Linked DNA regions of Homo sapiens: region 1 is linked to region 2. The links come from fine-mapping of genetic effects on gene expression. A gene starts in region 2. The other region holds a variant in brackets. All regions are shown on one strand. Distances are between the middles of the regions.

What was found. PIP is the estimated chance that this variant, and not a neighbour inherited with it, causes the effect.
Region 1: its variant is fine-mapped to the expression of SPG7 in whole blood (TOPMed, PIP above 0.99).

What each region holds. Positions count from the first base shown.
Region 1 is chr16:89,537,811-89,553,367 of GRCh38, reverse strand. SPG7 (SPG7 matrix AAA peptidase subunit, paraplegin) reads right to left here. Exons shown (of 17, transcript NM_003119.4): 10 at 8,596-8,720; 11 at 6,608-6,710; 12 at 5,255-5,365; 13 at 2,759-2,874; 14 at 233-389. Among named protein-coding and RNA genes, the nearest start is that of RPL13, 15 kb to the left of the region's middle. The variant G/A (reference allele first, on the strand shown) is at 9,268.
Region 2 is chr16:89,500,663-89,516,219 of GRCh38, reverse strand. SPG7 (SPG7 matrix AAA peptidase subunit, paraplegin) reads right to left here and starts at 7,817. Exons shown (of 17, transcript NM_003119.4): 1 at 7,620-7,817; 2 at 5,628-5,730; 3 at 3,183-3,272. The coding sequence starts at 7,802. It overlaps LOC101927863 (a long non-coding RNA gene), which reads left to right and starts at 7,900. Exons shown (of 5, transcript NR_188547.1): 1 at 7,900-7,983; 2 at 10,073-10,261; 3 at 11,067-11,175; 4 at 11,909-12,013. RefSeq lists silencers at 7,324-7,443, 7,474-8,033, 8,104-8,313, 8,434-8,503 and an enhancer at 10,323-10,372.

The DNA of each region.
Region 1 (15,557 bases), 37 kb before region 2:
ATTAAATGTGTCTAGAGTTGGCATATAGGTTAAGTTTTTGTCCAATTAAATTATCTAAGAAGTCTTGCTTAGCTCCAACTCTCTTATGACCACAACTTATCTTTTACAAAATACTTAATAAATTCAAAGCTACGTCTACACCAGATTCACCCCATGGCATGCACTGGAACAGAAGGAGTCATGCAGGGAAAAGCGCTCTGAAACCTCCAGGGCCCGCGCCGCTGCTCCTCACCAGAAGTGACCTCGTTGAAGGACAGTGCTTCCGAGGCCCGTCCTCCCAGGGCCATGCACATCCGCTCAAACAGCTGCTCCTTGGTGAAGAGGTGCTGGTCTCTGGGGAGCATCTGAGCAAAGCCCAGGGCGGCGTTTGTCCGAGGGGTTATGGAGACCTGGCACAAGGTCAAGATGACCCAGGTCAGTAGGCAGGATGCGTGGGCTTTGAGGAGGAAGGTGTGGGACTAAGAGGTCTCCGTCATTAAAGCGTCTCAAAGCAGGAAGGCAAATGTGCAGCATCCTCTACAACAACAGGGGATCCTAACACTCTAGATGGCCAGCCCAGAGACAGCAGCGTTCCCACCACAGGTGCCTGTTCACACACTGCCGGGAAGTGTCTTCTCATACATGACTAGACAGGCAGGGAGTCAAGAAGACAAGGCCCGTAGAAGACAGCTGAGAGGCGAAGGACAAGTTTCACCCCCGATGGCCGCTGCGCTGACCCCTCACACCAGCGACAGCTACTGAGGGTTCAGAGCAATGAGAACCCCACGATGCTGAGGCAGCAGAGGCTGTCCTCACCTCTGCTGCTCCCCCACAGCCCCACATCAGGTGTGCAAGGAGGTGGCGCGGGGCAACGAGCTAACTCGACAACACGGAACCGCTGAGTGGGAGACGGACGGAGACGGGGCAGGGGCTGGCCCAGCTGCTGCTTCTGAGAATTGTGGCGGCGAGATGGCCACATCCAAGTGCTCTGAGAATCCCGAGGACGCTTAATTTAAAATCTAAAACTAGGCTGGGCGGGGTCGCTCACATCTGTGATCTCGGTACTTTGGGAGTTAGAGGTGGGCAGATTGCATGAGCCCAGGAGTTCGAGACTAGCCTGGGCAACATAACGAGACCCCTTCGCTACAAAAAATATAAAAATCACTCGAGCCACCAGTGGGGCATGCCTGTAGTCCCAGCTATGCAGGAGGCTGAGGTAGGAGGATCGTGTGAGCCCGGAAGGTCGAGGCTGCAGTGAGCTGTGATCGCACCACTGGACTCCGGTCTGGGCAACAGAGAGAGAGACCCTGTCTCAAAACAAAAAGAAGCTCTAAATAACGGCTGCAGTGATGATTGCATTAATGACCAAAACCATAACAGCCAATTCACAACCTTTTCCTGGCAGGACACTGAGCCTTGGGAAAGAGACTCACTTTTTCATTGTGACTATCTGACTTTTGCCCATCAAATACAGTAAAAATTCTTTTTTTTTCCCTTTGAGAGACAGTCTTGCTCTGTCACCCAGGCTGGAGTACAGTGGCACAGTCTTGGCTCACTGCAGACTCTGCCTCCCGGGTTTAAGCGATTCTTGTGCCTCTACCTCTCAAGTGGCTAGGGTTACAGGTACGCACCACCACGCCCAGCTAATTCTTTTGTATTTTTGGTAGAGATGGGGTTTCACCAGGTTGGCCAGGCTGGTCTCGAACTCCTGACCTCAAGTGATCTGCCCGCCTTGGCCTCCCAAAGTCCCTGCATTAATTTTGATTTCTTGACATACCGTGTTAAAACGTCGTGTTCACTGCTGAGTTTTTTAGTGTCCCATAAATGGGACCCCCAGCTGAGTGTCCACTCGCCCCACAGTGGGCCTAGCTCTGGTCCCATGACTGTGGTGCACATCGCCAAGGAGCAGCACGGATCTGGTCCCCAAACGCTGCCTCAGCCCTGCTGAGACCCTGGGATGGGCAGGACGCTCTCTGATTAACACGCAACTTTGCTACAACTCACACCTGAGAACCAATCACGGAGACCAGCACTGACAAACCAAGCTGGCAACTGCTACAGCGTATGCATTGTTTGCAGTGAACCCTGAGGTAGGAACACAGCACTGCCGCCTTCTCAGGTGAGCCTCAAACCTGCACGGCTTCCTGGGGCTCCACTGTAAAGACGGCACCTGCGTTCCGAGTAGAGACCTCCTCTTGGCAGCACTCGGACTCCCGGTGGTGGAGCCACGTCTTAGAGAAGCTGTAACATCACCATTTGGTAAGAATAAATGTCCATCGAGTTCACAGCTGCCTACAAGAGTAGTTTTTTGTTTGTTTGTTTGAAGTAGAGACAGTTTTGCCCTGTTGGCCAGGCTGGTCTTGAACTCCTGACCTCAGGTGATCCACCATGCCCAGCCTAGAATAGTATTTTTTAAATGTACACTCAACTCACTTCTTTCCAATGTTAGGAGTCATTTGGGGTGGACAGGCAAAGGCAGCGAAACCCCATTGCATGGTGTAACCTTCCACGAGTCACCCCAGTAGCAGCACCATGCTCCGATGTGACACAGCCCACTCCTGCCTCCCACGTCCGAGTTCCCGCCCATCAGTCGCCACCCACCCTGCTCCATGGATCATGACAGTGGCAGGCTTTCCTCTCACATGACCTACAGACACAGGCGGGACTCCCCAGTCAGCTACAGACACAGGCGGGACTCCCCAGTCAGCTACAGACACAGGCGGGACTCCCCACCCACCTTTGGCCAAGGCCCGTGGAGCCGGCACCTGCCAAGACCCACCTTCATCACGGCCTCCGTGTGCTCCAGCATCCAGCCCACCAAGGCGTGGCCCGACTCATGAAACGCAACCACTTTCTGTTCTTCCTTGGACAGGATCTTGCTCTTTTTGGCAGTCCCTGAAAGAATGCCGGGGTATGAGTTGGGCGCGGTGGCTCACGCCTGTAATCCCAGCGCTGTGGGAGGCCAAGGCGGGCGGATGACCTGAGGACAGGAGTTCGAGACCAGCCCGACCAATATGGTGAAACCCCGTCCCTACTAAAAATAGAAAAATTAGCTAGGTGTGATGGCGGGCGCCTGCAGTCCCAGCTACTTGGGAGGCTGAGGCAAGAGAATCACTTGAACCTGAGAGACGGAGGTTACAGTAGGGCAAGATCATGCCACTGCACTCCAGGCTGGGCGACAGAGCAAGACTCCGTCTCAAAAAACAAACAAAAAAGAATGACGGGGGGGTGAGCTGAGACCCCGGCCTCTCCCTGGCTGGGCCCTGCTCCTGCCCCGTGTGGTCAAAGCAAGCCTCTCTCTGCACATCTGCCTCTTGGAGCTGCAGCTGCGGCTCTGGACACCCCAACTCAAAACGACACTCTTCAGGTCAAAGGGCTGTTGAAGGAGGTCGTGATTTCTTCTTTTATAAATGTTGCAATCATCGAAATAGCTCCTGCTGCTTTTAGGAACAAGTGCAACCCTCTGAGGAGTGTCTCCTCCTGCCCCATGGTTGGGGGGGTGCCACAGGGTCGGGGCAAGGGTCACAGAACAGCAGCTTTTGACTTTCTCCCTGGCAGGATGGGCAGAGGCCTCCTCTGAGTTACGGGCCTCCTGCTTACTTTCCCTCTCCCCTCAGACCTGGAGGCGCAGCTCCCATCCCCATCACTTTCTGGATCCTTATGGCTTCTACTCACCCCTTCAGAAGCTTTTTGCCTCAGGGACAAGGCTTTTTTTCTGTCAGTGACAGGGTCTCACTCTGTTGCCCAGGCTGGAGGGCAGTGGTGCGATCACGGCTCACTGTTGCTTCAACCTCCCAGGTTCAAGCAATCCTCCTGCTGCAGCCTCCTGAGTAGCTGAGACCAGAGGTGTGCTCCACCACCATGCCTGGCTAATACTCTTTATTCTTTTCTTTTAAGAGATGGGGTCTTGCTGTATTGCCCAGGCTGGTCTCAAACTCCTGGCCTCAAGCAACCCTCCTGCCTCAGCCCCCAAAGTGCTGGGATTACAGGCATGAGCCACAGTGCCCAGCCAGGGACAAATGTTTGCATTAAATCTCCCCTGTTCAGCTTACTGGTGAGGCTTCATTTCCTGTCTCAGATTTTCCACACATCTGTAAGTGTCCATTCTGTACAACTTGAATCAGCTCGTGGTCCTGAGCACTCAAGTACGTCATGTATTTTCTTTCAACTGGCTTGTGGTTCCCACTCAGTCCTTCCTGCTTTGCTACTATTATCAAAAGCTTTTCGATTTCCACATAAAAGTAAATGGTTACACGAAAATAAATTTCAGTAAGACACAGGCAGCGCCAGTCCTCTCGACCCGCAGGGCTGTCGGAGAGAAGCCAGGTGTGTTTTGCAGTGTCTGGCACAGCAGCTGCCCCACTCCTCTGCAGGAACCCACTGCTTTCCCAAGCTGAAGCCCTGGGGACCTGCAAGAGGCGTGTTCGTGCTAGGAATTCACTCGAATTGAGGGTGAGGAACTCGGTTCTCGCAGGGATAGCTCGCAAAGGAGGCTCGTGCTCCTCAAACACCTGGGGCAAGAACCACTTCCCTTTTCAAACGTTCAACCTGTCTCACACTGACAGTGCGGGTCTGAACTCCATTCCATGAGATGACTGATCACGTCTGGGTGTTGCCATCATAGCTATGGAAACCTCCAGCAGCTCCGATTCCCAGTTTGGTCCTCTCTCCTCACAGACGTCGCAGACCCCACACTGAGCAGCCACGGAACGGCAGTCAGAGGCGGTCAGCCCACCGGTCACCCGTCACCAAAACTCATCTCCCGTTCCTACTGACGGTCGGGACCATGAGTTTCACCAGAGGTGGTGCTGCAGATCCACACCTCTCCGCAGAGCCCCTGCTGCGCTGAAAGCACGGCTGTCCCTCCACAGCCACGGGCGGCAGCAGCCCTCCGGCCCACAGTCAGCGGCTGGAGCTCAGCCCCCATGAGGCTGGGGCTAGGCTGAGCCCACCACACCCAGGCTGGCAAGACATTTTTAGTTTTTATTATTTTTATTTTTGGGGGGCATTTTTTATTTTTATTTTTTCACTTTCTTTGGCAAGGCATTTTTTATTTCTGTTGGACGAGCGTCTACTCTTAGGTAAATCTGTGATATTTTAAACTAAGGAAAAGTACAAGGTATCATAAAGACATGAGTTACGCAGAACTGAAACGCAACGTGTGTTCCTTCCTGTGTGATGGTTCCATCCACCTCACCTCTCAATACCTGCCTGGGTATTTCTGGGGTTCAAGCCCTGCTAAGGAGGGCCTTCACCCAGGGCGCGCCCCCTGTACCTGCGAGGACGCGCTCCACGGCGTACTCGAAGTTGAGAGTGTGCACGGAAGTGTGTCCCTCCCGCGCCGCGTGCAGCGCAGCCTCATTGCAGATGTTGGCGATGTCAGCCCCTGTCAACACAAACAGCCACGGTGTGGGTGGGTGGGTTTCTGCTATCAGGGCTTAAGAGGAGGAAGGGGCCCTCAAGGGAGAACAAAGATGGCCGGGCATGGTGGCTCACCCCTGTAATCCCAGCACTTTGGGAGGCTGAGGTGGGCAGATCACCTGAGGTCAGGAGTTTGAGACCAGCCTGGCCAACAGGGTGAAACCCTATTGCTACTAAAAATACAAAAATTAGCCGGGCGTGGTGGTGAGCGCCTGTAATCCCAGCTACTCAGGAGGCTGAGGCAGGAAAATCGGTTGAACCCAGGAGGCGGAGGCTGCGGGGAGCCAAGATCACGCCACTGCACTCCAGTCTGGGCGACAGAGTAGGACTCTGTCTCAAAATAAATAAGTAAATAAATAAAAGGAAGAACAAAGAGGGAAAAGAGACCAAGAACCAAGAGTGCTGGTGAGAGCGTCTGGGAGAGAGGCACGGGGAGCTGGCGCCAGGAGCAGAGCTGGGGAGAGCGGCAGGCGCCGGCGCCAGGAGCAGGGGTGGGGAGAGCGGCAGGCACTTGCACCGTGTTCCACTGAGGCCATTCCACAGACGAGACACAGAACCGCCAGGCTCCATCCGCCCTGACGCCCGTCTCTCCTCCCAAGGGCAGTTAGTTCCACACCCCATCTTGTGGCTGATTCCACCTAACAGCTCATGAGCATTGATGGCAAAGAAATTAAAGGCTCTCTAGTAACCACAAAATTCTAGTGAAAGACCCTAACGAATAATCAAAGGGCAAATTCATCTCATAATAAAAGGGAGGTTTGTTGACATTAACTTTTAAAATGTGAACCACACAGCAGGAAAAGCATCTTGAGGTATGATTTCTATTTCTACAACTTGACAGAGACCGTGAGGGTCAGAGGGAGGCGGCTTTGCCGGGACTGCGTGGTCTGACTCTGGGTCTGACGGGAAACGCCGGCATGACTGGTCACTGTGTGGAAGCAACATAACTCCACTATCTCTGGAAACAACACAGACCGGGAACCACCGTCTGCTTTTCCACCCCGGGGCGGAGGACGGAGTGCGGGTGCCGTCTGGACCTCCTGCTGCCCCACATACACATCAGCTCCCTCCCAGGCTTGTACTGAGCAGAGGCCCCCAGAGAAGGAGCAGCGCCCACCCCACAGAGGAGGCCTCGATGCTGTTTGCGCAGGTGACACCACCTGCCCTCAGGACGTGACGCTGCCCAGGCTGCGGGTTGAGAACGTACCACTGAATCCTGGTGTCAGCTCTGCCAGACGCTGGGAGTAAAAGGTGCTGGACTGGGTCAGCTTCAGGCTCTTCAGGTGCTGCTCAAAAATCTCCCGCCTCTCCTGCCAGAACCAGGGGAGGAAAGACAGTCGGGCTCAAGCCTAGTTACTGCCACAGGTGCGGCATGTTTGTCTGTGGGGGGGGGGGGTCCCCAAGTAGCTGGGATTACAAGTGTGTGCCATCATGCCTGAGTTTTGTATTTTTAGTAGAGACGGGGTTTCGCAAAGTTGGCTAGGCTGGTCTCGAACTCCTGGCTTCAAGTGATCCACCTGCCTCGGCCTCCCAAAGTGCTGGGGTTACAGGCGTGAGCCACCATGCCTGGCCACAAGCAGCATTTTAAACACGAACAGAACACTGTTGGATGGCCGGGCCCGGTGGCTCACACCTGTAATCCTAGCACTTTGGGAGGCTGAAGTGGGCAGTCTGGCCAACACGGTGAAACCCCATCCCTACTAAAATACAAAAATTAGCCAGGCAAGACGGCGGGTGCCTGTAATCCCAGCTACTCGGGAGGCTGAGGCGGGACAATCACTTGAACCTGGGAGATGGTGGTTGCAGTGAGCCGAGATCGCGCCGCTGCACTCCAGCCTGGGGGATAGAGTGAGACTGTCTCAAAAAAAAAAAAAAGAGAACGCTCTTGGAAGGAGAGGTGGGTGGGGATCACTTGAGGCCAGGGGTTTGACACCAGCCTTGGCAACACAGCGAGACTCTGTTAAAAATTAACCAGCACGGCGGCGCACGCCCATAGTAGTCCTAGCTCCTCAGCTTGAGCCCTGAAGGTTGAGGCCGCAGTGAGTGGTGATCGCAGCACTGCACTCCAGCCTGGGTGACAGCGCAACACCCTTTCTCTAAAAATTGAAAGAAAAATTAAAAAGAAAAAAGAAAAAATTATAGCAGAATAGCTAATGAAGCACGTCACACACAGCAAATGCTTATTCTGCAAAACTTCCAATTCCCACACATGTTCCATGCGTCTAAATCCTGATGTAAAATGTTTCTTACACAGTCAAAAAGCCAGGAGCCGCCCTCCCCTGGAGAAGCTGCCCTCCCCTGGAGAAGCCGTGTCCCCTGGAGAAGCTGCCATCCCCTGGAGAAACAGTGTCCCCTGGAGAAACAGTGTCCCCTGGAGAAGCCATGTCCCCTGGAGAAGCCGTGTCCCCTGGAGAAGCCATGTCCCCTGGAGAAGCAGTGTCCCCTGGAGAAGCCGTGTCCCAGCGGGAAGGGCTTCTGCTCCGCCCTTCACTCTCCATCCCAACAGAGACTGAGCACCGGCTGAGAGCCGCTGAGCCCAGCCCTGCTCCCCAGGCTGCACTGATGGAACATTAACCCACCAGCAGACCCGGAGGCCCTCTCTCCAAACCCTCCGCTCCATGAGCTGAACTCCTGCTCCCTCAGGGCAGCAACAAAGGCCCTTTGGCCAGGAAGTGTAACGTCCAACCAGAGCCCTGTGACAGAGGAGGGATCAGGCGAGAGGCCTCAGGACTTCTACTCCCACCCCAATTTCAGGGCAGCTGCACAGTCCACGTCCCCAGAGCCCACGCTACGGATGGAAGGAAGTGATGCCACACAAGAATAAAGTTTCCCACAATTTTTCCTCCTGGATTTTGTTTCAAAGGATTTGCTATAAAAACCAGACTGATACCCAGGATAAAAGGAAAACCAATAGCAGGTGAACAGAACTGCAAAACCCCGAGCAGTGAGTGCAGCCATTGGGCAGGTCTGCCAGGGGGCGTGCAGCCAATGTGGGGGCCACAGCAGTGAGTGCAGCCGGTGGGCAGGTCTGCTGGGGGCGTGCAGCCGATGCGGGGGCCACGCTGGACACTGCCAGCACCTGTGGGGCTGTGACAGGCTTCACACCAAGAAGTGTCTTAGAGGAGAGGCCAGACCACTCAGAGCGAGTGGGGGCGGCCCAGGTGGAGTGGGAGAGGCTGGGATCCTGGCTCTGACCTGCAGCGTGGGGAGATCAATGAAGACGTGCCGGTCCAGTCGGCCTGGCCTCATCAGAGCACCGTCCAAAATGTCAGCTCGGTTCGTGGACGCCAGGACGATGACATGGTCTGTGGTACCCATTCCTGAGGGGACAGAGCAGACAGTGGCTCTGAGGGTAGGGGTCCTGACACAACAGATTTCCCCTGCAGGTTCCCCTTCAGGACACAGGAGGGAGAGAGACCCCCCTAAGGCCCAGAGAGAAAGGAACAGCCCGGTCCTTCTGAACTAGGAGCCGCGATCCCCCATCGCTCCCAGCCAGCATCACCAGGAGGAACAGGAATTTGCCTATTTTGACAAGTGCAAACAGCAGAACTGTCCAAGGCCCTCCGGGAGCTCCTACAGCATCCTGGAGCCTCTCCCTGCCTCACGGTGCCATCTGGGAGCCGGTCCTAACAGCCACCCCCCACCCCCCACCGCCCTGTCATCATTATTGTGACTTTGTAACATTTTAGCTAACACCCAGCTTTAGGCTGTGACTTGGAAACATTTTATCTTCAACGTCTGGCCCTAGGCCCTGGGTTTCAGGCTTGACGTTTGTCATCGGAGAATTTAAAAGTGAGTCCAGAAACGATCACTGATCCCTGGTGTATGTGAACCTTGACTGGCCCTTGATGTGAATAAATCAACTGC[G/A]AAAAGAGATTTATGAAGCTGCTGGGAACACCTGACTGGATGCTCGTAAGAACGTTCAGGTGTTATGATGCTGTGGTGTTTCTCTGAATTTAAAGAAACGTACTCAGAGCATATAAGATTCAAAACTATGGGTTTGCTTTAAAAGAATCCAGTCCACCAGGTGCAGTGGCTCACGCCTGTAGTCCCAGAACTTTGGGAGGCCGAGGCAGGCAGATCACGAGGCCAGGAGTCCAAGAGAAGACTGGCCAAAATGGTGAAACCCCACAAAAGATACAAAAAATTAGCCGGGTGTGGTGGCGTGCACCTGTAATCCCAGTTACTCAGGAGGTTAAAGCAGAAGAATCGCTTGAACCTGGGAGGCGGAGGTTGCAGTGAGCCAAGATGACACCACTGCACTCCAGCCTGGGCTACAGGGCAAGACTCCGTCAGGAAAAAAAAAAAAAAAAAAAAAGAATCCACTGGTGGCCAGATGCGGTGGCTCACGCCTGTAATCCCAGCACTTTGGGAGGCTGAGGCAGGTGGATCACCTGAGGTCAGAAGTTCTAGACCATCCTGGCCAAAAGGGTGAAACCTCATTTCTACTAAAATACAAAAATTAGCTGGGTGTGGCGCATGCCTGTAATCCTGGCTACTCGGGAGACTGAGGCAGGAGAATCGCTTGAACCAGGAAGCAGAGGTTACAGTGAACCGAGATTGTGTCACTGTACTCCAGCCTGGGCGACAGAGCAAGACTCTCAAAAAAAAAAAAAAAAAGGAAAAGGTCCACAATAAACAGTGTTAAAAGTAAAGATACGACAAGACCTACCTTGACTAATGTAAGAACAGGACCCGTGACTAATGTAAGAACAGGATATAGCCAGGCGCGGTGGCTCACGCCTGTAATCCCAGCACTTTGGGAGGCCGAGGAGGGCGGATCACAAGGTCAGCAGATGGAGAGCATCCTGGCTAACACAGTGAAACCCCATCTCTACTAAAAATACAGAAAATTAGCTGGGCGTGGTGGCGGGCGCCTGTAGTCCCAGCTACTCCGGAGGCTGAAGCAGGAGAATGGCGTGAACCTGAAGGGTGGAGCTTGCAGGGAGCCGAGATCACGCCACTGCACTCCAGCCTGGGCGACAGAGCAAGACTCCGTCTCAAAAAAAAAAAAAAAAAAAAAAAAGAACAGGATCTACCATGACTAATGTAAGAGCAGGATCTACCGTGACTAATGTAAGAAACCCTTAATAATCCCAGCACGTTGGGAGGCCAAGGTGGGAGGACCATGTGAGCCTAGGAGGTGAAGGCTGCAGTGAGCTATGATCATGCCCCTATACTCCAGCCTGGGCAATGGAGTGAGACCCTGGCTCCAGCAACCCCATGTTCTTAGGACAGGACCTTGAACGCTCTGAGGAGGCTGAGGGGCCTGACCAGCTTCTCCAGGGCCACTGTCCTGAGCCTCACTAAGCCGTAGCCGCCAGGTCTGGACAGCAGCTCAGTCCAAGACACACCCCACTCCCAAGCAAATCGCTCCCGAATTTCAAAGAAACTTTGAAAGACACAACCATTCTCCCTGGTTCCACACGTCAGAATGTGATAAGCTGGGATGCTAAGTCCCAGTCACATTTCTACAAGGGAGATCACAGAAGAGAATCACCTCGCCAAGGCAAAGACAGTGTCTTAAAATCACGGTGACTTTTAAAATAAACTCAGAAACAAAAACAGGCAGCAGAAGCACAAGTGCCTTGTCTCACTATGACACGAGGAACAAGAGGCTGGGGAGGGTGGGGACTGGGACCCAAGCTGGCCCCTCCAGAGCTGTCTGGAAGGCCTGCCAAGGCTTACTGCTCAGTGTCGTGGAGCGCCTTCCTTGCAGAGGCCAGGGCTGTGGATACAGAATTCTGAAAGATTGTATAAACAGTGAAAAAAATGGGAAAAGTAATAGGAACACCGGTCTCAAAGAAAAACAGCAGCCAGGCCAAAGAGGTGCAGTGCGAGCTCCTAGAGGGGGCGGCGCCGGGTTCAAGCACAGCTCGGCCTTCAGCAGAGCCCAGCCACCCTGCGGGGCACGTGCTCCCCACCGGGCTATGTGTCAGGATGGCCACCCTGCGGGGCACGTGCTCCCCCCGGGCCGCTATGTGTTAGGATGGCCACCCTGCGGGGCACGTGCTCCCCACCGGGCCGCTATGTATCAGGGTGGCCACCCTGCAGGGCACGTGCTCCCTACCGGGCCGCTATGTGTCAGGGACATGTGGTTTCAGGATACAGACTTCCTGGGACTGGACACATGCTCCCCCTGGGCAGCTATGTGTCAGGGACATGCGGTTTCAGGATACGGACTTTCTGGGACCGGATCCCTGGTGTGACTTTTTAAGTTTTGTATTCTGATGGTAACAGACACACAACAAATTGCAAAAACAGCACAGAGCAGTCCCTTTGGCCCTGGTCCCCCAGCAGCTGTGCGTTCAGTAGCTGCAAAACAAAGGCAAAGCCAGGAGACTGACATGGAAACGCCAGGCCCCTGCTCAGATGCCCCCACTCCTATGTGCTCTCACCTGTGTGTGTGCTCCACAGATGGACACCTGTGTCACACGCACGTTCACATAACGAGCATCTCCCCTCAAGACACAGAACCGCCCTCCCCAGAGGCATCCCTCCTCCCTGGAGACCTCCCCTAACTGCTGACAACCAGTAACCCGTTCTCCATCCCCAGAATTTTGTTATTTTGACAATTTCGTACAAGTGGAGTCATACGATACTAAGCCTGGCTCTTCTCACTTTGCGTCATTTCCTTGTTGCTGCAGGAAGAAAGTTTCCTTCTACTGCTGCATAGAACACCATGATAAGGATACACCAGTTTCAGCTCTTCTATTGCTGCGTAGAACACCGTGATAAGGATACACCAGTTTCAGCTCTTCTATTTCTGCGTAGAACACCGTGATAAGGATACACCAGTTTCAGCTCTTCTATTTCTGCGTAGAACACCGTGATAAGGATACACCAGTTTCAGCTCTTCTATTTCTGCGTACAACACCGTGATAAGGATACACCAGTTTCAGCTCTTCTATTTCTGCGTACAACACCGTGATAAGGATACACCAGTTTCAGCTCTTCTAGTCGCTGTGTAGAACGCCGTGATAAGGATACACCAGTTTCAGCTCTTCTATTTCTGCGTAGAACACTGTGATAAGGATACACCAGTTTCAGCTCTCAGCCACTGAATGGCACCTGGGTCACTTCCAGTTTTTAGCTATTACAGGTAAATGAGCGTCGGCGCCCAGGCATTTCGTGTGAGCCTAAGTCTTTGCTTTCCTGGGATGAGCACCCAGGAGGGTGGATGCGGGGTCATGTGGTGAGCGCATGTGGACACGGGGTCACATGGTGAGCACACGTTTAGTTTTTTAAGAAGCTGCCAAACTGTTTCCCAGTGAGGCTGCACCACGTCACACCCCCATCAGCAGCGTACAAGGGATCTGGTTTCTTTGCATCCTCAGCAGCGTGTGGTGTTGTCACTGTTTTTTGAGTTTTGTTTTGTTTTTGAGATGGGGTCTCGCCCTGTTGCCCAGGCTGGAGTGCAGTGGGGTGACCACGGCTCCCTGTAGCCTCGAACTGCCAGGCTCAAGTGATCCTCCCACCTCAATCTTCTGAGCAGCTAAGACTACAGGTGCGCACCACCACTGCCAGCTAATTTTTGTATTTTTTTAGAGACAGAATCTCACTATGTTGCTCAGGCTGGTTTCAAACTCCCGGGCTAAAGTAATGCTTCCAACTCAGACGCGCAAAATGCTGGGATCACACGTATGGCCCAGATCTGGGCCGGTCACTGCTCTTTACTCTAGCTCTCCTAAGAGGTGTGTGTTCCTATCAAAATCTCAGCAAGATACTTTGGTAGATAGGAACAAGCGTATTCTAAAAATTACAGGAAAAGGCAAAGGAATAGCTGAAACAATTCTGGTAAAGAACAAAGTGGGAGGAATCACTCCACCTGCTCTCGTCTCACAGAAGCGAGAGACCAGTTGTGTGCGGAAGGACAGACTCACAGAGCCAGCACAGACCCCCACATGCACCTGAGCTCCGGCAAAGGTGCAAGCACAACTTGGTGGAAAGAAGACAGCATTTCAGACCAGTGGGGCTGGAGCACTTTTCCACAGGCAGAAAATGAACCTGACCAAACCTCCCACTTCATGTAGACGTTAACTTAAAATAAGATCATGGATTAAATATAAAACTTCTATAAGATACCCATGAGAGGCCAGGCATGGGGGCTCACACCTGTATTCCCCACACTTTGAGGAGCTGAGGTGAAAAGATCATTTGAGCCCAGGAGTTCAAGAGCAGGCTGGGCAACAAGGTGAGACCCCCAACTACACAAAAAAAATTCTTTTTTAATTAGCCAGGCATGTTGGTGCACACACCTGTGGTCCCAGCTACTCAGGAGGCTGAGACGGGAGGACGGCTTGAGTCCCAGAGGCTGAGGCTGCAGTGACCCATGATCGCACCACTGCACTCCAGCCTGGGTGACAGAGCAAGACTCTGTCTCAAAGAAAAGAAAAAAGAAACCCACAGGAGAAAATCTTTAGGATCTAGGAATAGGCAAACAGTTCTTTTATTTATTTGTTTTTTTGAGAAGGAGTTTCGCTCTTTTTTGCCCAGGCTGGAGTGCAATGGTGCGATCTTGGCTCACTGCAACCTCCGCCTCCCGGGTTCAAGCGATTCTCCTGCCTCAGCCTCCCAAGTAGCTGGGATTACAGGTACACGCCACCACACCCGGCTAATTTTGTATTTTTAGTACAGATGGGGTTTCTCCATATTGGCCAGGCTGGTCTTGAACTCCTGACCTCAGGTGATCCACCATGCCCGGCGGGCAAACAGTTCTTAGACTTCACAGTAAAAACGAGATCTATAAAAGCAAAAATTGATAAACTGAACTTTATCAAAATGAGCAGCTTTTGCTGTTCCCCGTTAGAGGGTGAAAGGACAAGGGACACATAGAGTGCGTAAACCACATGTCCAAAAAAGGGCTGTGTTCAGAGCCCTGGAAAACACTCAGAACTCAGTCAAGACACCCACTGGGAAAATGGCCCCTTGGGCCTCGAGATCTGCACCCCCAAGCCCTGAGCTCCCACCCCTTAGCTCCTGCCTGGGTTTCCCACAGTATCCTCAGTGTTCAGGGCTGCCTGCTGGTCCACCATCACTGGGACCTAAGACATTGTCCAAAAAACAAGCAACCAAACTCAGGATAAAGGACCGGCTGCCACAGCCTCACTTCCCACAGGGCCGCAGACAGGACCCCTGAGAGGCCCTCAACTTGCCGCAGGACCCGACAGTTTGGGGGATGTTTTTGGGTCAGAGGCTCCTTCCATTCCCTGTTGGAGACGCATGTGGAAGACGGCAGGGCAGGCAGAGGCAGCACCACAGGGAGCAAGCCACGGACAGAAGCTAGACCTGACCCCGCTCTCCCGCTCAGAGCCTGAGATCCTTGAACCAGCACCCACTTCCTCTGAGAGGACAGAGGGCAGAAACAGCAGCATCACCTCTGGGCCACGAGCAAGTGCTCAAGAGCTGACTCAAGTGGGAATAAGCCATACTGCCGGCCCCTCCCCGCCTGCGGAGCCCAGAAGCCCAGGGCTCCTCGTCCACCCGGGGAATAAGCCACACTGCCGGCCCCTCCCTGCCTGCGGAGCCCAGAAGCCCAGGCCTCCTCCTGTCCATCCGTCCCCCAGGCTCACTGTCCATTCTGCTTGGACCTGGGAGAATTTCCCCCCGTGCTCTCTAAATGGCTCTTGTCAAGATTTTACCAACAGGACTTCCACATGGAGTGGTGACAGTGGATGCCCTGGCTATGTGGGTGTGGAGGGTACTCGTGCTTTCTTTGAGGGATGTCTCAACGCACCAGGACAGCACGAGACGCCCAACCCGAAGTGGCTGCTGCCACCTGAGTGCGCCCTTCCAACCTGAGGTCTAAAATGGGGAAGAAAGCTGCATCCCCATCCCGCTCCCGGCAGAGCCAATGCTTCTGAGTGGGAGAACACACTCTGAACCCCAAGTGTGGTTCTCTGCGCTCCAGCCTGGCCACACCAGCGTCACCCAGGGCTCGGCAGTGCTCGCAACCCCCAGGGAAGTACAGGGGCAGTCGGCGGGCGTGAGTTGTGAGTCAGACGGCCGGCTCCTGCTGGGCCTCAGCTTCTCCCTCTGCCAGCGCCCATCTACCCACCTGGCAGGCAGTCCACGGCTCCCAGGGCAGAGCGTGCTTGATACATTTACTGCCACATTAAGGACAAAGGTAGGGGTGTCCCGGGTCACACTGGGACCAG
Region 2 (15,557 bases):
GGTGAGAAGTTTGAGACTAGCCTGACCAACGTGGCCAAACCAGGTCTCTACCAAAACTACAAAAATTAGCTGGGCTTGGTGTTGCATGCCTGTGATCCCAGCTATTCGTGAGGTTGAGGCAGGAGAATCACTGGAACCCAGGAGGCAGAGGTTCCAGTGATCTGAAATTACGCCATTGCACTCTAGCCTGGGAAACAAGAGTGAAACTCCAGGCTGGGCACGGTGGCTCACACCTGTAATCCCAGCACTTTGGAAGGCCAAGATGGGCAGATCGCCTGACATCGGGAGTTTGAGACCATCCTTGCCAACATGGTGAAACCCTGTCTCTGCTAAAAATACAAAAAATTAGCTGGGCGTGGTGGCGCACGCCTGTAGTCCCAGCTACTCGAGAGGCTGAGGCAGGAGAATCGCCTGAACCCAGGAAGCAGAGGTTGCAGTGAGCCGAGATCGTGCCATTGCACTCTAGCCTGGCGACAGAGCGAGACCCCATCTCAAAAAAAAAAATAATAATAATAATAGTAATAATAATAATAGAAATGAGGGTCTTAAACTCCTGGGCTCAAGTGATCATCCCACCTTGGCCTCCCAAAGTGCTCAGATTACAGGTGTGAGCCACCGCACCTACCCAGCAAATTTTTTTTTATAAAAAGGTCAGCCGGGCGTGGTGGCTCACACCTGTAATCCCAGCACTTTGGGAGGCCGAAGTGGGGAGATCACGAGGTCAGGAGTTCAAGACCAGTCTGGCCAACATGGCAAAACCCTGTATCTACTGAAAATACAAAAATTAGCTGGGCATGGTGGTGCATGCCTGTAATCCCAGCTACTCAGGAGGCTGAGGCAGGAGAATCGCTTGAACTCAGGAGGCAGGGGTTGCACTGAGCCGACATCGCACCACTGGACTCCAGTCTGGGCAACAGAGCGAGACTCCGTTTCAAAAATAAATAAATAAATACAAAATAAAAGTTAAAAAAAAAAAAGGTCCAGGGCTGGGTGCGGTGGCCCACTCCTGTAATCCCAGCACTTTGGGAGGCTGAGGCACGCAGATCACGAGGTCAGGAGATTGAGACCATCCTGGCTAACACGGTGAAACCGAGTCTCTACTAAAAATACAAAAAATGAGCCGGGTATGGTGGCGGGCACCTGTAGTCCCAGCTACTCGGGAGGCTAAGGCAGGAGAATGGCGTGAACCTGGGAGACGGAGCTTGCAGTGAGCTGAGATCACACCACTGCACTCCAGCCCAGGCGACAGAGCGAGACTCCGTCTCAAAAAAAAAAAAAAAAAAAGGTCAAGGCCAGGCACGGTGGTTCACACCTGTAATCTCAGCACTTTGGGAGGCCAAGGTGGGTGAATCACCTGAGGTCAGGAGTTTGAGACCAGCCTGGCCAACAAGACAAAACCTCATCTCTACTATACAAAAAGAGGGCCTGACGCGGTGGCTCACGCCTGTAATCCTAGAACTTTGGGAGGCCAAGGTGAGCAGATCACAAGGTCAGGAGATCGAGACCATCCTGGCTAACATGGTGAAACCCAGTCTCTAATAAAACAAAAAAATTAGCCGGGTGCGGTGGCGGGTGCCTGTAGTCCCAGCTACTAGGGAGGCTGAGGCAGGAGAATGGCATGAACCCAGGAAGTGGAGCTTGCAGTGAGCCGAGATTGTGCCACTGCACTCCAGCCTGGGCGACAGAGCGAGACTCCGTCTCAAAAACAAACAAACGAACAAAAAACAAAAAATTAGCAGGGTGTGGTGGTGAGCACCTGTAATCCCAGCTACTTCGGAGGCTGAGGCAGGAGAATTGCTTGAACCCGGGAGGGGGAGGTTGCATTGAGCTGAGATCGCACCACTGCACTCCAGCCGGGGCAACAGAGTGAGATTCTGGCAAAAAAAAAAAAAAAAAAAAAAAAAAAAAAAAGTCAAAGGACACACTTTATTGAAATGTTGAAGTATACAGGGAAAGAGCCCTGAAATCAATTCAGAACAATTTTGTATGAAGATTCAGAAGTCTTTTAGAAGATAGTTCTGAGTGGCTGTAAGCATTGACACTTACCGTAAAACCAACAGTAAGCTGAAGATGAGCCTAAAGCCAGAAACGCCTAAACTGAATCCACCTGCGAAACACTGGTGTCCCTTCCCGCAGTTATGACCTCCCCTCGAGAGCTCAGTAGGGAGAGTCAGAGCTCCTCTCTCACAGAGTAAAGCTGTCCCTGGCCTTGGCAAATGCAGCGTCTCACACAAAATCAATCAAGAAGGACGTCACTCCTGAAACAAACTCCTGCTAAACTCGAATTCACAATAATAATCCCCTCATCCAATAGCTGAACCATCATTTCCACATCCTGAAAGCTTTCCTGAAAAGCAACATGGGAAGAAAAAGTCCTTATGACAGTTCCTCACTCGCCTTCCAAGGCCAGGTGCCTTTCTAGAAAGATGAGCTCTGCTGAGCAGGGCGTCCATCTTAACAACGCTGATTTCCAGCGAGAGGCCTCAAGGATCCAAAAGCAAAGCATTCCTGAAGCTGAGTTCAACCCTTCTGCCCCCTGGGGCTGTGAGTCTGAAGCTGAGCCTCCAACTCCTGGGCTCAAGCTCCTCCAACTCCTGAGCTATGACTACAGGTGCACACCACCACGCCTGGCCAATTATTTTCTTCTTTTCTTTCTGTATAGATAGGGTCTTTTTAAATTTAAATTTAAATTTTTTTTTTTTTGAGATGGAGTTTTGCTCTTGTTGCTCAGGCTGGAGTGCAATGGCATGATCTCCACTCACAGCAACCTCCACCTCCCAGGTTCAAGCAATTCTCCTGCCTCAGCCTCCCGAGTAGCTGGGATTACAGGCGTGTGCCATCACGCCCGGCTAATTTTCTATTTTTAGTAAAGACGGGGTTTCACCATGTTGGCCAGGGTGCAGGTGATCCGCCTGCCTCAGCCTCCCAAAGTGCTGGGATTACAGGTGTGAGCCACCACGCCCAGCCTTTTAATTTGCAGTGAGACAGGGTCTCGCTATGTGGTATAGGCCTCAAGTGATCCTTCCACCTGGGCCTCCCAAAGCGTTTCGATTACAAGTGTGAGCCACTGCACCCGGCCCATCTCCCCATTTTCCAGACTGGTTTCACCTTGCTAAAAGGAAAACAGAAATGTAAAGACATCCAGAGGCAGCTACTGACTGAAGAACATCAGATGAATATACCTTCGTCCTCTTCAGGCGCCTTCCCCTTCGACTTATCCTTCTCCTTATTCTTCTGCTTCAACCTTGAGGTGTTAAAATAGAAAGTACCACCTATGAGAAATAGAGAAAGGATTTAACAATTAAGTTTTGCAACCACAGGGGAGGCATACAGGACAACAGTGTACTCCTAAATAACCAAAGCAAAACAAAAACCATCTGAAAAACCTACTTATATCCATAAGATTTATAAATATGAAATAAAGCATATCCTATATCACTTAGTCCAGTATTTCCTAATTACAAAATAATAAACTATTTTAACTTACGTTAAATATCTTTGCTACTTAAATTGCTAATGTGAGGGAATAAAAAATAGTTATGAACACAAATTTGGGAAAATATCACGAATCCCTTTAATATATGAAGTTGCTTTAAAAGAACTTAAACACGCCAGGCGTGGTGGCTCATGCCTGTAATCCCAGCACTTTGGGAGACCGAGGCAGGTGGTTCACGAGGTCAGGAGTTCAAGACCAGACTGGCTGAGATGGTGAAACACTGTCTCCACTAAAAATACAAAAATTAGCCGGACGTGTTGGCAGGCGCTTGTAATCCCAGCTACTTGGGAGGCTGAGGCAGAATTGCTTGAACCCGGGAGGCGGAGGTTGCAGTGAGCTGAGATCACACCACTGCACTCCAGCCTGGTTTACAGAGCAAGACTCCGACTCACAAATGGTTTCCAGACAAGTGGCAACAGCAGCAGCCCAGCCACCACCAAGAGGGGCCGGCACGACACTCCTCACACAGAGCTGTCTCAAAATCTGAACAAATCAGCGTTTACAAATGGGGGAGGCCAGGTGCAGTGGCGCACGCCTGTAATCCCAGCACTTTGGGAGGCCGAGTCGGGTGGATCACGAGGTCAGGAGATCGAGACCATCCTGGCTAACATGGTGAAACCCCGTCTCTACTAAAAATACAAAAAATTAGCCGGGCATAGTGGCGGGCACCTGTAATCCCAGCTACTTGGGAGGCTGAGGCAGGAGAATGGCGGGAATCCTGGAGGCAGAGCTTGCAGTGAGCGGAGATCGCGCCACTGCACTCCAGCCTGGGAGACAGAGCAAGACTCCGTCTCAAAAAAATAATAATAAACAACAACAACAACAACAACACAAAAATGTAGCTGTACGTGGTGACACATGCCTGACTTCCCAGCTACTCAGGACGCTGAGTGGGAGGAGAACCTGGGCCCAGGAGGTTGAAGCTGCAGTGAGTAGAGATTGCACCTGGGCAACAGGGCAAGACCCTATCTCAAATAATAATAAAAAATAATAAAAATAGGGAAAGAGTTTCACAACCATGACCTGAAATGTAACTTTCTTCACAAAGACATGAACGGGTTCACCAGTGAAACGGCCCCGGTTGCCACTTGCATGTCACCTCAGGCTTAAGGAGGCTGAAGCATGTGCTTCCTGTTTCACAGCCACAGGCACCCGTGAGCTGACGTTAAACACTGACAGCAGATGAGCCAGTTGCTGATGCACGGCCAGTGGGCACGGCACTCTCCCTACCCATGTGTTGGCACAAAGCTGTTTAATGTTAGTTAGGAGTAGAAATATTTTACTTTTTCCCTGTTCCAACTCCATAAAGGGGAGCGTGAAATAAAAGTGAGAGGTGTCAATCCTTCAGGTTCTTTAACCTAAAGCCAAGAGAGACCAAAGAATGTCACAAGGTTTCATTAAATGATTTATTGAAGAGCAAATTATTTGCAGGGTATTTTTAGTGATTGTGTGGATATAAAACATCTGTAGCCACTTTGTAAATCCTTACTAAACATTCTTGCAGCTGACTAGATAACACGAAAAACCTTTTTCAAGCAGCCCAATTACTGGAATACAGCAGAATTTTTTTTAAAAAAGGACAACTTGGCCAGATGCGGTGGCTCATGCCTGTGATCTCAACACTTTGGGAGGCCAAGGCAGGCTGATCGCTTGAGTCCAGGAGTTTAAGACCAGCCTGGGAAACGTGGCAAAACCCCATCTCCACAAAAAATACCCCCCAAAAATTAGCTAGGCGCTTTGGTGTGTGCCTGGAGTCCTGGCTCTATGGAAGGCTGAGGTGGGAGGATCACTCCAGCCTAAGAGGTCAAGGCTCTGCAACTGGGGGATAAGGGAGTAAAGAGGCCCCTTTGGGCCTGGACAACAAAGTGAGACCTTGTCTCTACAAAAAACAATTAGCCGAGTGTGACGGTACACGCCTGTAGTCCTAGCTACTCCGGAAGCAAAGTGGGGAGGATCCCTTGAGCCCAGGAGTTCTAGGCTGTAGTGAGCTCTGATCACACCATTGTACTGCACTCCAGCCCGTGCAACAGGGCGAGATCCCGTCTCTAAAATAAAAAAAGATCAGCCTCCCAAGTAGCTGAGGCGGTAAGTGTGCAGTCATGCTCAGCTGCTTCTTTAAACAGATACATACCTAAAAGTTGCCAGAGTCTGACTGGATTCTGAACTAAATGTTGTTTCAACAACAATCCGTTGATCCCTTCAAAGGTAGGGGTTAGCAGTCTCAATTGTAAGCTCTGAAAAAAAAAAAAAAACAATACTGGAGGTCACACCAACATTAGAGAGTACCAAAGCAATGCAGACTAAAAATCGTTTTTAAAAGTTCAAATATATAATTATTTGTAATATCTACATTGCCCTGAAATATAAAGTAATAGTCTGAGCAATAGGTCAAAGCTTTAGGTAACATCAAAATGTCAAAAGCAAGTAAACAGGTTAAAACACAGTAATTGGCCAGGCGTGGTGGCTCACGGCTGTAATCCCAACACTTTGGGAGGCTGAGGCGGGTGGATCACATGAAGTCAGGAGTTTGAGACCAGCCTGGCCAACATGGTGAAACCTCATCTCTACTAAAAATACAAAAATTAGCCGGGCGTGGTGGTGCACACCTGTAATCTCAGCTACTCAGGAAGCTGAGGCAGGAGAATCGCTTGAACCCGGGAGGCAGAGGTTGCAGTAAGCCGAGATAGCACCACTGCACTCCAGGCTGGGCAACAAAGGGAAACTCCATCTCAAAAAACAAACAAATAAACAAACAAAAAATCACGATAGTGGCCAGGCACGGTGGCTCATGTCTGTAATCCCAGCACTTTGGGAGGCTGAGGTGGGAGGATTGCTTGGGCCCAGGAGGCAGAGGCTTCAGGGAGCCATGATCAGGCCACTGCACTCCAGCCTGGGCGACACAGCGAGATTGTCACAAAAAAAAAAAAAAAAAAAAAAGAAGAAAACAAAACACAGAAGTACATTGGCTGCTATCCCATGGCCTGAAGCTTCTGCAGGAGAAAGGGAGCAGCCCAGCTCTCCAAAGGCCACAGTGGCTGCCCAGACACGGGGCTCCTGCTGTCACCAGAGAGTGGCTCCTTGTAGAACATTTCCAGGTACCAAACCAGTTAACAAGTATATACTTTCAGAGTTCTCCTTTCAAGATAAACATTTTCCCATTTAAATATGTTTTATGGCCGGGCGCGGTGGCTCACGCCCTGTAATCCCAGCACTTTGGGAGGCCGAGGCAGGCGGATCACAAGGTCAAGAGATGGAGACCATCCTGGCCAACATGGTGAAACCCCGTCTCTACTAAAAATACAAAAATTAGCTGGGTGTGGTGGCGCGCACCCGTAATCCCAGCTACTCAGGAGGCTGAGGCAGGAGAATCGCTTGAACCCGGGAGGCGGAGGTTGCAGTGAGCCAAGACCATTGCACTCCAGCCTGGGCGACAGAGCGAGATCTCTGTCTCAAAAATAACCGAAAAAACAACAACCTAAAAGGTGTGGGCTAAGCTCCTAGGCGAGGGCTAGGAGAAAAAAACATCAGCCCAAAAGCTGAAGGACACAAGGTCTGGTTTTCGGGAGGAGATGCTATCCTATCCTTAGCAGAACCTGAAACAAGGCCGCACTACAGGGGGTGCTCAATGACTGTATCAATAACGTGCCGAGCTACATGACAACAGCAAAATGCAGCTACAGGGTATTTTGCGGACACAGAAACGTTCTGGGCCCCCTACTCGGCAATAACCACCCTAACTGGAAGGCGCTGGAATTCCTGGTGACGGAATCGATCCACAGGCGTGGACTGTAAATTAGTGCTACGCCGGAAACCGTTACTGGATTCCACTTTAAAAGGCGAGGAAGACGGGCGGAGAACATCCACACACAACAGACGGGTTGGGAAAGTCCACGCCGAGGACTGCGCGGATCCCAGCCCTGCCTCTTCCCGGCCCGCCCAGCGCCCACGATCCAGGGCCCCAACAGTCGCTCCGCGCCGAGGTCCACAGCTGGGGGATCCGCGGGCCCACAGGCGCAGGCTCCCCCGCCGCAGGGGCCAGGCGGCCTCCGACCCGCCCCGCCGGGCTGGGCCTTACAGAGCAGAGCCGGGCGGGAGGTGGGGCCCGGACTCCGCGGGGATTTACCTGCAGAGCTCGGCCTCCAGCCTCGGCGAGGTCCCCCGGAGGCCTGCTGGCCATGTACGGCCGCCCCCTCCCGGGCCTGGCGGGGAACCCTGGACTCCAGGCCGGGCCTGGGCCCCACAGCGGCCGAGGACCCGGGCCTGGACCCCGGCGGAGGGCACGGAGCAGCAGCAGCAGCACGGCCATGTTGGCCTGAAAGCCGCGCCTGCGTGATCCGCGGGGCGCTACACGGCGCCTGCGCGGCGGGGTGGGCGGGGTCTGACGTGGCGCCTGCGCGGTCCCCACAGCTGCGCCCCGCCGCGCCCGGGTGCCGCTTGCCGCACCCCCGAGCCTGAGCCCGTCTACCTCGTGGCTGCCTGAGGCCCGGGTATGGGGGCGCGCGTCTGCGAGGAGGTCGCGGGTGCCCTGGTTTTTTTGAAGCCGGCCTTGTATTCCCAGGGCCTGGCGGGTGAATAACCGGCCGGGTCGTGGCTGCGTGGTCGTGCTCCGCCCGCGCCGAGGGGCCTCACGCCCGGGCAGCCTGCGTCACCCGCAGGGTTCGGTCACAGGCGAGGGCGGATGGTGCGGGCCGGAATCCCGCCTGCGAGTAGAGGCCCGCGCTCAGGAGGGCGGCGCCGGAGGCCTCGGGTCGGGAGGGCCCCTTCGGGTGTGAGGAGCGCAGGAAGGGGGCGGTTTTCCTGCGTCTTGAGCCGCCCGAGGACGAGGACTGAAGTTGCAGCCGCCGCAGGGAGGGCAGCCCCGGAGGAGGAGGGTCGTGAGGGAGGGAGCGCGCAGTGCGGCGCGGCCTGGCAGGCGTCTGCAGAGCTCGTCCCGCACACCTCTGACTTCGGAGCGCTCCGTCCTGTGCCTTCGGACTGGCTCACCTCGGAGGCGCTTCGAGCCTCGGTCCTGCCCCGGCCGCTGCGCGAGCCCATCGTAGGAAGCGGGGAGGCGCCGTCTGGAAGCTTAGGAAGAGGCTCTGTTCTCTTCAGGGTCCGCCCTCCGGGCCCGGGCAGGGTCCCTCGTGGGCTCCCAGGCGCGCGGGGTCCTCCGCCACCCCGACCCCTTCCTCCGTCCGCCTTAGGTCTAGAGCTGACGCCAAGAGCTGGAAAGCTTGTTGAGTAGGAAAAGCAAAGACTAGATGGTCTGTCACAGAGGTAGGATGAGGGTGACCTATTTATTTTTATGCTTTTCTGTACTCCGCAAATTCGTAACAGTGAATGCCAGTGACGACAGCCAACATCACCGAGTGCCTAGCTCCGTGTCGAACACCCATGTAATATTCACAACCCTGTGCAGCGAATACAATACCTCTATTTTACATGTAAAGAAAGATTCAGAAGTATTAAAAGTAACCTGCCTAGGATTACAGCTCTGAAGTTAGGGCAGAATTTCAAGGCCGGTCTGGTTTGTTTCTGGACCTGCACTCACTCCACCACTACAGACGAGGTTGCAAAGCCAGTGGGCTGCGTGTAATCCTCCCTCTTCCTCAGCCCCGAGACGCTCAGGAAAGTGTTTTCAGTTATCGTGGTTATCCGCCCTCAGCCCTCCAGTGGGCCGGGTGCCTCGGCAGAGGTGCTCGGGGCTGGGGAGGTGTTCTGTTGGTTTGTGGAGAGGACCTTCCCCTACACCCAGGGCTGACACTGATTTTCACAACTGAACCGCTTTTCCTTTTGCTTCTTATTGTACAGTCAGCCTTCGCAGTGAATCCAACCTTGCCGTTTCCTCCTCCACTATTTTTTCTTTCCCTGATTGAAAGACACCAGGTGGGCCGGGCGCGGTGCCCTCCCCCTCCCTCTCCCTGCCCTTCATCCCAGCACTTTGGGAGGCCAAGGCGGGCGGACCACGAGGTCAGGAGATCGAGACCATCCTGGCTAACACGGCGAAACCCCGTCTCTACTAAAAATACGAAAAATTAGCCGGGCGCTGTGGCGGGCGCCTGTAGTCCCAGCTACTCGGGAGGCTGAGGCAGGAGAATGGCGTGAACCCGGGAGGCGGAGCTTGCAGTGAGCCGAGATCCCGCCACTGCACTCCAGCCTGGGCGACAGAGCGAGACTCCATCTCAAAAAAAAAAAAAAAGGTCACAAATCCTCTGAACGCACAGGCATAAAGGGTTGTGGGGCTCGGTCACTTCCTAGAACACAAAAAACCCTTTCGGAAGTTTGGTTGGGTTGGTCACGGGACAAGGCTGGAGAGAGGGTGAGGGCACACATTTGGATGTGTTTGGGAGGAGTTTAAGTGTAGTCCTATTAATATTGTTTGAGATAAGTTAAAATTGTTTCCTGGCAATTCATCAGAAGCAGTGTGGGGTGTTGGCAAGAGGCCTCCTCTGGGGAAAGAACACTGGGTTCTGTCTCCTCTGGCCTATGACCTTAAGCAAGTTATTAGCTTCCTCAAGCCTCAATCTTCTCAGCGGTAAAATGGGGATGATAATTATCTGCAAAGCAAGGCTAATATCAGCCTTGGGTTTCCCACAGGGTGGTTATGAAGATAAAATGCAATAAATGTGTGTGAGGGCAACTGACGAGCCAGGAAGCCTTGGCATCCAGAGTTATTACTGGGACGTCATGGGAAATGAGGATATGGGAACAGAGTATTTATGCATTTATTCAAACTCATCTCTAACAACCGTGCTTTGAAGGCTGGCTGCATCCCAGGCCCTACAGGTGAACCGTGACTCTCAGCTCTCAGCTTCAGCCCCTGCTGTAGTGGCGGCAGCAGCAGAGGCTCACGTAGCCTCAAGCAGTAGGGGTTTTGTTTAAGGATTCGGGTGCCCCATGGTTTGGGGGTTTTGTTTTTATTTTGCTGCATGATTTGGATTCAAGAAGAAGGATCTGTAGGACAGTGGGCTCCCGGGTCTGCCTTTGCCCTCATAGCCTGCAGCAGAGCAGGACGTTCGCTTTCCCTTCTCCGCCTGTGTGTTCTTCCTGCACTGCCTAACTGCTGCTTGCTCATTTGTGCTTCCGTGTCACCCCTCCTCAGCCCTCTGAACTCTGCACGTCAGGACTTGGCACACTTCCTAACTGCTGCTTACTCATTTGTACTTCCGCGTCACCCCTCCTCAGCCCTCTGAACTCTGCGCTTGGACTTGGTGTGACTTCCCTTCCCCGCCTATTCTCTAGAGGCAGTCTCTTGGTGACTCCTGGTTTGGGTCAGGGCACGCCTTAGGTCTCTGGATGGCTACCAACCCCAGGTTCCCTCAGCTCTAGCCCCATAAGAGAGGAGGCCTCAGGAGCGCCTAGGGCAGCCCTTTCAGCCTGGGCTGTGGGAAGGGAAGGTGGACAGAGAGGAGACCCCATGCCTTTGTTCCCTGTTGATGCAGAAGCATTCTAGGCTCTGTCCCTTATTCCTGCTGTGGGCTGAAGCTTCAGGCAAGGTGCTCTACAAACTTCAGTTGCCTCATCTATCAAACAGTAACGTTTAACATTCCAGAGACAGAAGTTGATCTTTGGGACTTTTTTTGATTTTAAGATCTAGGCTGGCTGGGGCGGTGGCTCATGCCTGTAATCCCAGCACTTTGAGAGGCCGAGACCGGTGGATCACGAGATCATCAGGAGATGAGACCATCCTGGCTAACATGGTAAAACCCAGTCTCTACTAAAAATAGAAAAAATTAGCCGGGCACGGTGGCAGGTGCCTGTAATCCCAGCTACTTGGGAGGCTGAGGCAGGAGAATCGATTGAATCTGGGAGGCAGAGACTCCATCTGAAAAAAAAAAAAAAAGATCTAGGCTTCTGGCTGGGTGCTATGTCCCACGCCTGTAATCCCAGCACTTTGGGAGGGCAAGGCAGGTGGATCACTTGAGGTCAGGAGTTCAAGACCAGCCTAGCCAACACGGCGAAACTCTCTTTCTACTAAAAATACAAAAAAATTAGCCAGGCACGGTGGCAACATGCCTGTAGTTCCAGCTACTCGAGAGGCTGAGGCATGAGAATCGCTTGAACCTGGGAGGTGGAGGCTGCAGTGAGTTAAGATCTTGCCACTGCACTCCAGCCTCAGTGATGAGTGAGACCCTGTCTTTTTTTTTATGAGACAAGGTCTCACTCTGTTGCCCAGGCTGAAGTACAGTGGTGCGATCTCAGCTCACTGCAGCCTCTGCCTCCCAGCTTCAAGCGATTCTCCTGCCTTAGCCTCTCGAGTAGCTGGGATGACAGGCATGAGCCATCGCGCCAGGCCAAGACTGTCTCAAAAAAAAAAAAAAAAAAATCTAGGCTTCCTTATTAATATCTGAACAAATAATTACATATTTGCTTCTTTCCAAATTTGGCAGCAACTAAACTTAAAAATTTTTTTAAGTACATTTGCTTTTGCAGTTAGCCTGGCCTCCAGAGCTCTTGGACTGCAGCACCCATAATGATGGCCAAAGCCGCCCCCACGGCGACTCCTCCTGCTGAAGCAAAGTCAGGCAGAACAATAAGGTATGTGTTGAATATGAGGATGTCTTACATAAAACATGTTACCTTGTGGAATGCTTGAAAATAAACGAGTTCATCTCTGTAAATTTTAGTACATTTTCTTCCTGAAGCTCTTTCTTAGGAAACAGTTTCTTCTTATATCACTTGTTAACTGGGCTTTACTCATCCATGTAGAACCAGATTTTATTCTTCTTTAAAAGATGGGGCTGGGCGTGGTGGCTCACGCCTGTAATCCCAGCACTTTCGGAGGCCGAGGTGGTTGGATCTGGATTACCTGAGGTCAGGAGTTGGAGACCGGCCTGGCCAACATGGTGAAACCTCATCTCTACTAAAAATACGAAAATTAGCTGGGTGTGGTGGCAGGCGCCTGTAATCCCAGCTACTCAGGAGGGAGACTGAGGCAGGAGAATCGCTTGAACCCGGGAGGTGGCGGTTGTGGTGAGCCGAGGTCGCGCCACTGCACTCCAGCCTGGGCAACAGAGTGAGACTCCGTCTCAAAAAAAAAAAAAAAAAAAAAAAAAAAAATGCTGGGCACCGTGGCTCACGCCTGTAATCCCAGCACTCTGGGAGGCCGAGGGTGGGTGGATCATCTGAGGTCAGGAGTTGGGAGACTATCCTGGCCAACATGGTGAAACCTCCTCTCTACTAAAAATACGAAAATTAGCTGGGTGTGGTGGCAGGCGCCTGTAACCCCAGCTACTTGGGAGGCTGAGGCAGGAGAATCGCTTGAACCCAGGAGGTGTTGGTTGAAGTGGGCCGAGATCGCATCGCGTCACTGCACTCCAGCCTGCGCGACAGAGTGAGACTCCACCTCAAAAAAAAAAAAAAGGGTGGGCGGATCACCTGAGGTCTGGAGATTGAGACCAGCCTGACCAACATGGAGAAACCCCGTCTCTATAAAAATACAAAATTAGCCAGGCGTGGTGGCACATGCCTGTAATCCCAGCTACTCTGGAGGCCGACCGAGGCAGGAGAATGGCTTGAACCCGGGAGGTGGAGTTTGCTGTGAGCTGAGATCGCGCCATCGTACTCCAGCCTGGGCAACAAGAGCAAAACTCCGTCTCAAAAAAAAAAAAAAGAAAAGAAGATGGAAAGTTCATTCCTTTTTTTTTTTTCTTTTCTTGAGACAGAGTTTTGCTTGTTGCCCAGGCTGGACTGCAATGGCTCGATCTCGGCTCACCACAACCTTCACCTCCCGGGGTTCAAGCGATTCTCCTGCCTCAGCCTCCCAAGTAGCTGGGATTATAGGCATGTGCCACCACGCCCGGCTAATTTTGTATTTTTAGTAGAGACGGGGTTTCTCCATGTTGGTCAGGGTGGTTTCAAACTCCCGACCTGAGGTGATCCACCTGTCTCGGCCTCTCAGGGTGCTGGGATTACAGGCGTGAGCCAACACGCCTGGCGGAAAGTCCGTTTCTACTAGCAAGAAACCTGTACAGGAATTTGAGCATGACTAAATAATCATGTATTCCTCAGCGTTTCTTTAGATTGTTGGGTGTGGGACTTTGGGCAGGTGTTTAAGGACCTGGAAGGGACAGCCTATGTCCTCTCCACGTGACGGGAATCCCCACGGCCCTGGGCAGTGCATTCCGAGTTCGCCAACGTGGCAACTTAAAACAACAAATGCTTATCTCACTCTGTTTCTGAGGGTCAGGAATCTGGGAGTGGCTCGACTGGACCGTTTAGTCTCTTGGACTGGACAAGCTTGCAGTCCGACTAACTGATGGCCAGGGTGTGGCCAGTTGGGAGGGGGCAGGTAGCAGGGGAGTGGGGAGCGGCCAGGGAATGCTGGAGAGTCCGAGGGGGAGTGCTGCTGAGGACTAATAAAGTCTGTGGTAAAAGCATGACTGGCTGCTGAGAGAATGGACTCTAGAGAGGCCAGAGGTGGGAATGTGAGGCCAGGGAGGAGGGAGGCTTTTGCAGCAGTGCCAGAAGGTAAGGATCCTGGCAGGACCGAGGCATGGGGCTGGTTCTCCCAGAGGATCCAGTAAAGCCTGGGGTGTCTTGGTGCCCACTCTGGGCTGCGTTCTCTGATCTGCAGCGCCAGGAAGAGAGAAGCCAGCAGAGGCCAGCATGTGGCTGCTGGTGGCCCAGCTGCTGAGGGCGATGAGGGTGAGTCTCCAGACCGGCCTCTGAAACGCCAGGACAGGGCCGCAGACACCAGGCTCAGTGTGGACATGGAGCAGGAGGAGGGCTTTCTTTTTGTTGTAACTTAAAGGGCTGGTTTGACAAGGAACAGGTGGTCATTTCATTTTTTTTTTTTTTTGAGATGGAGTCTTGCTCTATTGCCCAGGCTGGAGTGCAGTGGCTCAATCTCGGCTCACTGCAAGCTCCGTCTCCCGGGTCACGCCATTCTCATCTCAGCCTCCCGAGTAGCTGGGGCTACAGGCGCCTGCCAGCACGCCCGGCTAATTTTTTTCTATTTTTAGTAGAGATGGGGTTTCACCGTGTTAGCCAGGATGGTCTCGATCTCCTGACCTCCTGATCCACCCGCCTCTGCCTCCCAAAGTCCTGGGATTACAGGCGTGAGCCACCGTACCCAGCTACAGGTAGTCATTTCTACATAAAATCCGAACCCCGGCTGGCCCACTTCAGACCTCCTCACCTCGCGGACCCATGGACAAACAGAACCACATGAGTGGACTTGGGCTGGTGCTGGGATTTTCCTGGGGTGCTTTCAGCAGCCTTCCAGAGACCAGCATGCCTTTCTGGTTTCTGGAACGCTCAGTGAGCTTTGGCTGGGGAGCACAAGGGCTGATCAGGTTAAGTTCAAGATTATCTGGAGATGGACAGGTACTTTTGCTTTATACACACCTTGAAACCTTGAACGAAAGCATGCAGTTTGGGTTTACCATCCCCGTCCCTGCTGTGTATTTTTTTTTTTTTTTTTTGAGACGGAATTTTGCTCTGTCATGCAGGCTGGAGTGCAGTGGCGCGATCTCGGCTCACTGCAACCTCCGCCTCGCGAGTTGAAGCAATTCTCCAACCTCAGCCTCCCAAGTAGCTGGGACTACAGGCACGCGCCACCATGTCTGGCTAATGTTCTGTATTTTTAGTAGAGATGGGTTTTCACCATGTTAGCGAGGATGGTCTTGATCTCCTGACCTCATGATCCGCCCACCTTGGCATCCCAGAGTGCTGGGAGCCACCACACCCGGCCTGTCCCTGTTGTTTTATGTTTTTTTTTTTTTTTTTTTTTGAGACGGAGTCTCGCTCTGTCGCCCAGGCTGGAGTGCAGTGGCGGGATCTCGGCTCACTGCAAGCTCTGCCTCCCGGGTTCACGCCATTCTCCTGCCTCAGCCTCCCAAGTAGCTGGGACTACAGGCGCCCGCCACTACGCCCGGCTAATTTTTTGTACTTTTAGTAGAGACGGGGTTTCACCGTTTTAGCCGGGATGGTCTCGATCTCCTGACCTCGTGATCCGCCCGCCTCGGCCTCCCAAAGTGCTGGGATTACAGGCGTGAGCCACCGCGCCCGGCCTGTTTTATGTTTTATTTAGGTTGACAGTTTATTTACTTCAGCCCTAAGGCAGTCCTATATGAAGTTA